3 linked regions of the Homo sapiens genome follow. The protein of the gene in region 1 interacts with the protein of each later gene in a pairwise test. Each region holds a gene or a part of one and is shown in the gene's direction. Other genes may lie near its edges. The genes, in order: ARL6IP1, SNX4 and SNX12.

Region 1 (3,750 bases):
GCAGTATGTGGTCTGCAGCTATGTTCTCTCACATTTATGACTTCCTTGAACATTTAAGAACCTGGTGGTTACTTAAGGAACATTTTAAAAATAAATTTAAATTCAATGGCCGAATACAAATGACCATGAGATTGGAAGTTAAAACCTGTAAAAAAGATAAAAGGTTGGAAGTTAAAACTATAGTTAATTCACCTGAAACAAACATCTGATCCGGACATTTGGCATGATTCTGTTTGTATCAAACGATGAAAAATCGGCCGGGCGCGGTGGCTACTGCACTACAGCCTGGGCAACAGAGCCAGGCTGTGTCTCAAGAAAAAAAGAAAAAAAAAAAAAAAAAAAAAAAAAAAAGATCAAAGCACTTGTTACTGCATTTGAAATCCTGGATAGAAAAGATGTACAAGTGCCTCAACACAGTTCCTAAACTGCCTAGGAATTCTACTGCTTGTGAGAGGGTTTACATATTTTCTTAGCTTGACCTCTAATGGAAGAAAGGTCGTGTCAAGAACTATCCTTTTGGCCGGGCGCGGTAGCTCACGCCTGTAATCCCAGCACTTTGGCAGGCTAAGGCGGGCGGATATCTTGAGGTCAGGAGGTCCAGACCACCCTGGCCAAAATAGCGAAACCCCGTCTCTATTAAAATACAAAAATTAGCCGGGCGTAGTGACGGGCGTCTGTAATTCCAGCTACTCGGGAGGCTGACGCGCCAGGATCACTTGAACCCGGGAGATGGAGGTTACAGTGAGCAGAGATCGCGCCACTGCACTTCAGCCGGGGCCACGGAGCGCGAGACTCCTTCGTCTCAAACAAACAAACAAACAATTCTGGCCGGGCGCGGTGGCTCACGCCTGTAATCCTAGCACTTTGGGAGGCCGAGGCGGGCGGATCACGAGGTCAGGAGATCGAGACCATCCTAACACGGTGAAACTACGTCTCTACTAAAAATACAAAAAATTAGCCAGGCGTGTTGGCGGACGCCTGTAGTCCCAGCTACTTGGAAGGCTGAGGCAGGACAATGGCGTGAACCCGGGAGGCAGAGCTTGCAGTGAGCAAGATCGCGCCACTGCACTCCAGGCTGGGCAACATAGCGAGACTCCGTCTCAAAAAAAAAGAAAAAAAAAAAAAGAATCCTTTTGGAGAGGGAGCTTGTAGTTTAAGTAACTTAAACATCCACGTATAATAAAGCCACTTAGAAGGCGGTGCATTTTCACACGTTCTCAAACCAGGCCTGGGTTTTTCCGCGCAAGCTAAGGCCTCATTCCTACTGGGTAGGAGAGAAACATTGCAGCAAAATCCACACAAAGAGCTCTTTTCACTTGTCCTCAAAACCTCACGGGTCGCAAATCCGGGCTAAACGGCTCAGGGGCCTGGCTGGGGAACTGGGCCGAAGGTGGAACGGATCCCAGCCACCTCGGGGCCAGGAAAAGATGAAGTGTCGCAGGCCCGGCGTCCCCGCCCTCCGCCTGAGGCAACGGAGCATCTCTCTTCGAGTAGCCCATTTTCCAGAGAGTCTCCTCGGCTGCGAAAGCCAGACGAAGAGGGACCCAAAGCCACCGCAGCGGCAAGAGCCGGAGAACCACTGAGGGACAGCGCCCCCTGCAGAGGCGGTTGAACCGCTTCCCACAGCGCTGGGCGGGGCGTCGCGCAGTCCCTGGGCGCTGATTGGGCACTCCGTGTCCCCTCCCCCTCGGCCCGGCGCTGCCTCTGTCTCCTTTGACCTCGATTTCAAGCCATGCGCTGAGCTTCGGTTGGCCCGGCTTCCTTGAGGCGTAAGCTCGGTCTGTCCAATGAGGAGCGAGCGTCGCGGGGGCCGTCGGGAAGGGCGGCCGACCCATATAAGCAGCCTGCGGGGCGTTCCCTCGGGTTGTGGTTGGTGTGCGGGTTTCGGTTGGAGGACTCGTTGGGGAGGTGGCCTGCGCTTGTAGAGACTGCATCCCCGAGACGATGGCGGAGGGAGATAATCGCAGCACCAACCTGCTGGTGAGTCCTGGCTGCCTGTCCCCCGGGAGCCGAGCGAGGCCTCCAGACGTCCGTGGGCTCAAACACCGCGGCCTCGTCCCTGTCACCCGCCGCGGGCCCGGCCCTTCTCTCCCTGGGCAGGCGACGATGCCTGGCCCTCGGGCTTCTTGGGTGACTCCTGGGTGTCGAACCCTTACCTTTCCTGGGGACGGTGCGCGACGGGGCGAGGAGGGCGCGTGATTCATCACCGCGAGTAGGAGTCGAGGAGGAAGTGGGAGGCAGAGGGGCTGCGACACTAGCCTGGGGTGCGGGTGGGGGCAGAAGGCCTCCTGGGGCCTGTCCAGCGCTTTCGCGGCTCAGGCCCCAGCCGTATTCGGCTTTCCCCGTCTTTGATCTTAACCTGGATGTGCCTGCCTTCTTTTCCCCCTAAAACTTGGACAAGGGTGGAGGGTCAAAGGGCTACTGCCCAGAATTTATCTTAGAGCTGGTACAACTTAAAACGACAGGGAGGCTGCGAGCTCACCGTGGGGAACCGGGAGCGGGGTCCAGCTGAACAGACAATGGGATGTCTTGGCGTTTGTCTGGAATTTGGAAGTCTGGCGGGGGTGGGGTCACAGGACTACTGGAAACAGCTTTAGAGTAATAAGCAGGGATCCGAAGGAACTGCAGTGAGATGGTATCATAGGCGGACACATTTTTATTTGTTATGAATTTAAGCGCACCTTGTGGGCAAAAAACAAGAGAAATATCCTTGCATATTCTCAGTTGCCCTTCCCTGGTGACTGTAGGTCACATACCAGCAATGAAAAACGGAACCAAAGAATTTACTTAGGGGCTTTTGAACTTCCAAGACCCCAGACGCTGGCCAATGACGTGACTTCAGGGCAGTTTTGATTGTGCGTGATTTTATATTTGCTTTTAGAAATGCATGGTTTGTTCCTTTAAACACACGCTCCTTCTAGCATAGTTAGTTCTCAGCGTGGATCTTTTTAAGAGGATTAATTGAAGCACAGAGAAGTAGCTCAAGCCCTGTTGAAATGACAAATCCTGGGCTAGAGCTCCTGCTTCCCAACTCTCCTTCCAGCAGAGCAATATAACTCTAAGGAAAGCAACGCCTTTGGTCGTGGATTTCTTGGATGCAGATCAGTTAACCTCTGTATCTGTTTCCTCCTTGGTAAAATGGGGACAGTAATAACACCTTTTTTTAAGGGTTGTTAGGAAGATTAATTGAAGTATAAATATGAATGCTCAGCAGAGTGCCCACACATAGTAGTCTCTTTCACTAGTATTAAGCATGGAATATAAAGTCAGAAATATTGAGATCACACTAGTGCTCAGCGTGGCACAGATAGCGAGCGTCTTTGTTAAGATTAAGTGCCTTGTTCTGTCATTTGCATGATTTCCAGTGAATGACTTTTACAAAGAGACAAGGTCTCAGCCCAGGCTGGTCCCGATCTCCTGGGCTCAAGCAATCCCCCCCGACCCGCCAAGTGCTGGGTTTACAGGCGTGATCCACTGCATCCAGCCTGATAACATAGAGACACTTGAGTTTCTTATTCTAAATTTTTCTTCCTTTACCAAAACCAGCTTTAAGGGCTTTTGCCACATTAGCTCATCCTAGAGGCCCACTTTCGGCTGTTCAGAGTCAGAGAAATTTGAAGTATAATCAAAATGACATCCTGAGTGGTAAGAAACACTGTATTGAGGAGGTATATTGACCGTAAAATGCCACCTTAATTTGGTGAAAGTAGTTTTCCTTAATTGTCCAATGAATGTCAACATCTGAGTGAT
Region 2 (3,750 bases), on another chromosome or scaffold:
GCTGCTGATCTGACAGGAGGCAGAGCTCAGGTGGTCGCTTGCCTCCTGCTATGCAGCCTGGTTCCAAACAGGCCATGGACTGGTATCACTCCGTGGCTCTGGGGTTGGGGACCCCCTGCTTTAAATTATCTCTAGATTATTAATACCTAATACAGTGTAAACACTGGTGTCTCATATAAGTGGAATCATACAGTATTTGTCTTTTTGTATCTGTCTTATTTCACTTAGCATAATGTCCTGCAGGTTTATCCATGTTGTAGCATATATCAGATTTGATTCCTTTTAAAGGCTGAATAATGTTCCATTGTATGTGTATGTGTATGCCGCATTTTGTTTATCCATTCATCTGTTTCTGTTTCCTTTTAGACTGTGAGAACATTCTCTTTGAAGGGAATGACTACCAAGCTCTTTGGTCAAGAAACTCCAGAGCAGAGAGAAGCCAGAATAAAGGTGCTAGAAGAACAAATAAATGAAGGAGAACAACAGCTAAAGTCTAAAAATCTGGAAGGCAGGTAAAGATGCTGCGATGTTTAAGTAAGCTAGGCTTGTAGACTATATGGTAGATTATTTTATTTATTTATTTATTTATTTTGGTAACAATTCCCAGCTTCATTGGCATCCCTGAATACAGCCTATTCCTTTAAAATGCATTCCTAAGAAATTTGAGTTATCACGCTGGGTGTGGTGGCTCACGCCTGTAATCCTGACACTTTAGGAGGCTGAGGTGGGAGGATTGCTTGAGCCTGGGAGTTTGAGACCAGCCTGGGCAACGTAGGAAGACCCTGTCTCTACAGAAATAAATAAATAAATAAATAAATAAATAAAAATAAAAGAAAGTTGAATTATCAAAAATAATGTTATAGAAACAGTTGTTTCAATGTGGGGGAAAGAGAAATAAAAGTTTCAACTTCATAATATTATTTTCCTGCACTATTCCTGATTTCTACCCTTTGTACTTTCCCTCCACCATTTCTTCTCCCCTCCCCTCCTTCAGTACCCAGCTGAAGTGTTACTTCATTGTGAAGCCTTCTCAGGCTATCACGGCATTTAATTCATGCCAGTATGGTATGGCAGTTTTGTATTAGATGATTGATTGTTCTGTGTGACTATCCCTGGCTAAATTTAAGCCCTTCAAAGTCAGTGATTGTATCTTTTCCACATTCACATCCCAGTGCCTTACATAGGGCTTAGCATGTAATTGTTACATAAGTATTTCTAGAAATTCAGTTCTCAGAGACCCACTATCACTGTTTGACTCATTTTTCTTATTTTTGTTTTCATCTGACAGTCAGTGAATAGACCAAGGCAGACCAAGAGTGTATTTTGGGTTTTGAGGTGGTTTTGTTCATTTTTAGAACTACTAGCACCAAATATGGCAAAGTAATAGATAGAATTAAAAAAGACAGGCCGGGCGCGGTAGCTCATGCCTGTAATCCCAGCACTTTGGGAGGCTGAGGTGGGTGGATCATGAGGTCAGGAGTTTGAGACCATCCTGGCTAACATGCTGAAACCCTGTCTCTACTAAAAACCAAAAAAATTAGCCGAGCGCGGTGGCAGGCGCCTACAGTCCCAGCTACTCGGGAGGCTGAGGCAGGAGAATGGTGTGAACCTGGGAGGTGGAGCTTGCAGTGAGCGGAGATCACGCCACTGCACTCTAGCCTGGGCGACAGAGTGAAACTCTGTCTCCAAAAACAAATACCTCTCGGGATTTTAATTTTTATTATTATTTTTCATTTTTTTGAGACGGAGTCTCACCCTGCTGCCCAGGCCGGAGTGCAGTGGTGCCATTGTTGCTCGCTGCCACCTCAAAGTCCAGGGCTCAAGTGATCCTCCCATCTCAGCCTCCCGAATCACTGGGACTACCGGCTACCAAGCCTGGCTAAAAAAGTTTTTAAACTTTGGTTGTGATTTAAAACAAGTACATGCAGCTGGCCGTGGTGGCTCACACCTGTAATCCTAGCACTTTGGGAGGCCTAGGAGAGTGGATTGCCTGAGGTCGGAAGTTCAAGACCAGCCTGGCCAACATGGTGAAACCTTGTCTCTACTAAAAATACAAAAAATTAGCCGAGTGCAGTGGCGTGTGCCTGTAATCCCAGCTACTCTGGAGACTGAGGCAAGAACCCTGGATGTGGAGGTTGTGGTGAGCCAAGATCACGCCTCTGCACTCCAGCCTGGGCTACAGAGCGAGACTTGGTCTCAAAAAAAAAAAAATGCTAAACGTGATTCATAATCCATCTTGTCAAAAGAGTGTATATTTTCCAGTGACCCCTGGAAGGCACTTACTTCATTGTGACTGACACCTGTTAGGTTTGTGAGCTGGCTTAAGGAGTCATCTATGTGTATTTTATAGGAATAATTTAAAGGTAGAATCCTTGTGGCAAAAACTTAGATTATTAGGCCAGGTGCAGCGGCTCACGCTGTAATCCCAGCAGTTTGGGAGGCTGAGGTGGGCAGATCACCTGAGCTCAGGTGTTCAAGCCCAGCCTGGCCAACATGGTGAAACCCTGTCTCTACTAAAAATACAAAAATTAGTTGGGCGTAGTGGCGTGTGCCTGTAATCCCAGCTACTCAGGAGGCTAAGGCAGGAGAATTGCTCAAACCCGGAATGCAGAGGCTGCAGTGAGCCAAGATCACGCCACTACACTCCAGCCTGGGCAACAGAGTGAGACTCTGTCTCAAAAAAAAAAGAAAAAGTAGATTAAAAGGTACAAGAATATATGACTGTCTGTTTGCTTTTTCCCTAACTATAATTTTTAGGAAAATAAAAAAACTGTCTTATACAAGCAATAACTCTTCCTTCTACATAGGCAATTAAAAACCAACGCCAATGAGAACTGGTTAACTTTTTAGTACACAGTTTATTTAACTTAAATAATAATAATGGCTATACCTTTTATTTCAGAGAATTTGTGAAAAACGCATGGGCTGATATTGAACGCTTCAAAGAACAAAAGAACCGAGACTTAAAGGAGGCCCTCATAAGCTATGCAGTCATGCAGATCAGTATGTGCAAAAAGGTAGGGTTTTTCCTGTTTCAGTGAAGATATATGTATATTCAGAAGTGCTTATACATGTATTTAAATTACCTGACCAAAAAATTTTTCATTTTTATTCTTCTCTTGTAGAATGTTTACCAATTTCTCTATTTTAATTTTGTAGGATTTCTGTTTTATTTTGTTTTGGTTTTTTTATTTTAAAATTTTAAATATTTAAAAAATAGATATGGGGGGGTCTCGCTATGTTGCCCAGGCTGGTCTCGAACTCCTGGCCTCATATAGTCCTCCTGCCTCGGCCTCCCAAAGTGCTGCAATTACAGGTGCGAGCCACCATGTCCAGCCTCTACTGGTGTTACAACCAGTATGCCCATTACTGAGTCTCCACTCATCTAAAGTCCAAATTTGTATCTCCATTTATAACTTGTATTTGAGAATATATACCAAGATTATTTAGATCATATGGTACTCTTGGACCAGACAGTAAAATACCATTCCAGGTATATGCTTTGATTGGAAAATAGCTTGAACATTATTTCGTGAAGACCTGGTTATGATATGCTTCCTCATAAAGTAAATCATTTGTGTTGCTGATATCCATAGTGAAAGATACAAACATTGAAGCTTATTCTAGTTAAAATAAATGTTTGACAATGATGGAAGACTTTCTAAAACGTTGGTTTAAGAACAAAATAGGAAACATTCCTTAACCTCTTTTTTATAACCTAAGATCTGCCAGTGTGACTACCAGTACCAG
Region 3 (3,750 bases), on another chromosome or scaffold:
GGATTTAAACCCAGGCAGCCTAAGTTCATGGGTCACACATTTAAGCCCTACACTATACTACCACCATATCTAATCACGTACAAGTCGTATCTATTTTATTTCTTCAATCTCTTTCCTATCTCTTCCCTCCTCTCCATTGTCACCATCACCACTTGATTCGGAGTCTTATTGTCAATACCTTCATAATTCAACTTAAATATACCTTCCATGTTGTCTACAAAACAATTCTTCTAAAACATAAATCTGATCATGTATTTTTCCTGCTTAGGATCCTTCAGGGACTCCCTATCACCTACCAGAAAGCTTTGTATCACCTATCATGAAGTCAGAGATCCTTTACTTAATATAAGCGGATCATCCTTTGTCTGCCCATCCCTAGCCAGTCTACCTTTCTAAACACTTCCATCACACAGTCTGAATTGGCGATAAATGCCTAAAAATGCTCCACTGTTTCTTATCGCAAGGACTTTGTGTATTCTTTCTTTCTTTCGCTCTCTCTCTCTCTCTCTTTTCTTTTCCTTTTCTTTCTTTCTTTTTTTGATGGAGTCTTGCTCTGTTGCCCAGGATGGAGTGCAGTGGCATGATCTCAGCTCACTGCAACCTCTGCCTCCCGGGTTCAAGCGATTCTCCTGCCTCAGCCTCCTGAGTAGCTGGGATTACAGGCGTGTGCCACCATGCCCAGCTAATTTTTGTATTTTTAATAGAGACAGGGTTTCACCATGTTGGCCAGGCTGATCTCGAACTCTTGACCTCAAGTGATCTGCCTGCCTCGGCCTCCCAAAGTGCTGGGATTACAGGTGTGAGCCACCGCGCCCGGCCTGCATATGCTGTTTCTTATTCCAGAAATTACCTTTCCCTATTTCCACTCCTATTTGTCCTTTATGTCTTTTCATGTCTGTTAAACTCAGATGTTTCCTCCTCCAGGGGAACCTCCCCTAATTTTTCCAGTTATACATTTCCTATGTGCTGCTTTGAACATTTACTTATTTTGTATTTGTCGCATTATATTAGTTTTGTTTACTTGTCTCCCTTGCTAGAATGTTAACTCCTTGAGGGCAGGGACTCTTATTTAACTCCAGGATTTTAGTGTTTAGCATGGTGCTTGGCACGTATTTGCTTAGTGGATATTGGTTAAATTGAATTAAACAGCAATTGTGAAATTGTAGGGCCTCATACTCTGTTGAAAGAATTTCAGGCATCAGTGATATGGGAAATATTTTTTGAGTAGAGGAGGGCAGGGGAAAGGTGGAGAAAGGATGACCTGAAATCATCACCCAGTCTACCCTTTAATGTGGAGCATATGTAAATTAGTCATATAAATATTAATATTTCTATAGATATTCTCATGTAAACATTTATTCTATCTCCATTATGGGTTGCAAGCAACCTCAGAGCAGTGCCAAGTATGGAGTTCTGCGGAGTAGAAATAGAAGGTATGAAATAAGTACCCTCAATTTGCTGATAAATGTAAGATTGAGTACACCTGGAGTGTGGCAACAAGGAGTAAGATATGCCCAATTTTCCTGAAAAGTAAGAGAGAAATGTCTTTCTTTACCCCATCCTAGTTGCTTGCTGCTTTCCTGGCGCCATACGTAGTGCTGAGTGCGCCATTGTGTGTGGCGTGAACTGAAACCATCAGTGGCACAGGTGGGACGGCTACGTTATAGGTTCTCAGTACTATTGTTGGAACCCCACCCTCCATAGACCACCCTTCTATTTTCGCGGAAAACCAGGACTTATTCAGGTCACTGGGCTTCGGCCTATCACTGTAGGAGCCTGGCTCACGGGGCAGTGCCCACTGTTGATTGATACACGGTACGAGACAATTTCTTGGGTTGAGGAGCCGCGATTGGCGGAGCCAGCCTGTGCTGCTAGGCAGGGTATTGGGTACTGCGTATTGGGGATGCAGGTTCCCGGGTGGCCACAAACATCACCCGGAAGCCTGAATATGGCCTCCACTCTACAGGGCGCGCAGCAGTCAGCACGGCCGCTATTCAGAGCCCGGGGCCCAGGCCCGTGCGGCGTGCGCGTGCGTGCGTGGGCGCGCGTGCGCGCCGCCGCCGCCTGTGGGTTGGCTAGTTATTTTGCAAGCGGGAGGGGCCGTGCGCGCTCCTGCCTCAGGCCTCTGTCCCCCACCCCCTTTCCCCGGTCCCAGGCTCTCCTTCGGAAAGATGTCGGACACGGCAGTAGCTGATACCCGGCGCCTTAACTCGAAGCCGCAGGACCTGACCGACGCTTACGGGCCGCCAAGTAACTTCCTGGAGATCGACATCTTTAATCCTCAGACGGTGGGCGTGGGACGCGCGCGCTTCACCACCTATGAGGTTCGCATGCGGGTGAGTCACGGGGTGAGGGAGACAGCTGAGGGAGGACCGGGCGGCGCGAGCGGGAGGGGGGAGGGAGGCTACCGCGGGGGCAACTAACGGCGGGGAAGACGCCTTAGGGGTCATTTGGGGGTTAGGGGTATAATAGGCTTGGAACGAGGTCTGCCGATTCAGTTGTGGCCGGAGGATGCAGAAAACTCCTGAGGGAGACATCGGACGGGGATGCAGGAAAGCTACCCATGAGGAAGTGAAGCATGGCTGGATAGGGTGGGGTGGATGGAAAAAGATTAGAGTGAGGAATTCAAGGAGATAGGAATCACGGCTGTAGCGACTGAAGGAAGGGAGGGAGGATGGAAGAGGGCTGGGGGATGGAAAGCCAAGGCGATATATCGCTGAGCTCCATAACTAAACTAGGTTGTGAGAAGTCTGAAGAGGGAGGGCAGGAAGGCCGGCTGCTTTCTAATGAGGTCTCCCTGGGATAATGGAGTAAAGCAAAGCCTTGAATTAAAGGGAAGGTAGATTCCAGAAAAGGCAGACAGTAGGCTTGTGGGAGCAGAAATAAGAAAGGGAGTCTCCTTGAGACCGAGCGCTTTCCTAACTTGTGTCGGATCAGCATCTGAAGGAGAGAAATGTTTTATGCTTAAGTTTTCGCAGATACTACGTGCTGTCTCGCCTTGAAACCTGGCCTGGCCCTGGGATTGGTGCCTTGTCAGTCACTGCTTTCATTCTATGTGGATCCTTTAGATTTGAAGTATCCAGAATGTTTATTTCAGTATTTATTGACTCTCGTTTAGGTACTTTGTATATGAATGGCTTTTTGCCCTTTCTGTCCTAGATTACCCTTTTGGATTCTGACCCTGGTCTGTAGTTACTTTAATACATGACATTTCAGAATTGCCCAGGAGTGGCTTCTTCCAGCATGCATGATAGAGGACTTTACTCTCTAGTGCTTAGCCCATAATGCAAGGATGGAATGTGCAGATAGAGTACTTGGTTTGCAGGATCTTTTGCCCACTTGAAGTGGTTATAGGCAAAACAGTTTGAGAATCATTTTCTAGTTTTCCTTATGTTTTCTTCTCAGACTAAAAGGCCAGAATATTCTCTGTGGACAGCATCCTGCTCAAACAGCATTGAAGAACTAAAAGAGTGTATGTGCTTTCATTGTTGAAGGAGTGAATTGAATGAGAAATTGTGGTCTCCTACTTGGGCTTTGAAATCTTATTGAGAAATTATGATTTCCAGATTCCAAGTTTGGCAAAGTCCAAACTGAAGAAAGAAAAGTGAATAGCAAAACATGAGAAACACTTGTCTATATAAGAACTATGTGAAATCATGTCTTTGGGGGAGAATGGAATTTAGGTCCTTCAGAATATGATAAAAGCAGGAAATTGTCAGTGCTGGAGAACTTAGTTACCTGAGGGAGCTT

Evidence for each region.
Region 2: the proteins of ARL6IP1 (region 1) and SNX4 interact in binary tests that used the Homo sapiens proteins (3 or more experiments, as listed by UniProt).
Region 3: the proteins of ARL6IP1 (region 1) and SNX12 interact in binary tests that used the Homo sapiens proteins (3 or more experiments, as listed by UniProt).

What each region holds. Positions count from the first base shown.
Region 1 is NC_000016.10:18,799,661-18,803,410, reverse strand, and holds the start of ARL6IP1 (ADP-ribosylation factor-like protein 6-interacting protein 1), read left to right. Parts: upstream 1-1,861; 5' UTR 1,862-1,944; coding exon 1,945-1,980; intron 1,981-2,040; exon of another isoform or gene 2,041-2,212; intron 2,213-3,750. UniProt on the Homo sapiens protein: Positively regulates SLC1A1/EAAC1-mediated glutamate transport by increasing its affinity for glutamate in a PKC activity-dependent manner.
Region 2 is NC_000003.12:125,450,572-125,454,321, reverse strand, and holds part of SNX4 (sorting nexin-4), read left to right. Parts: intron 1-366; coding exon 367-512; intron 513-2,902; coding exon 2,903-3,017; intron 3,018-3,750. UniProt on the Homo sapiens protein: Involved in the regulation of endocytosis and in several stages of intracellular trafficking. Plays a role in recycling endocytosed transferrin receptor and prevent its degradation.
Region 3 is NC_000023.11:71,066,728-71,070,477, reverse strand, and holds the start of SNX12 (sorting nexin-12), read left to right. Parts: upstream 1-2,143; 5' UTR 2,144-2,171; coding exon 2,172-2,336; intron 2,337-3,410; exon of another isoform or gene 3,411-3,472; intron 3,473-3,750. UniProt on the Homo sapiens protein: May be involved in several stages of intracellular trafficking.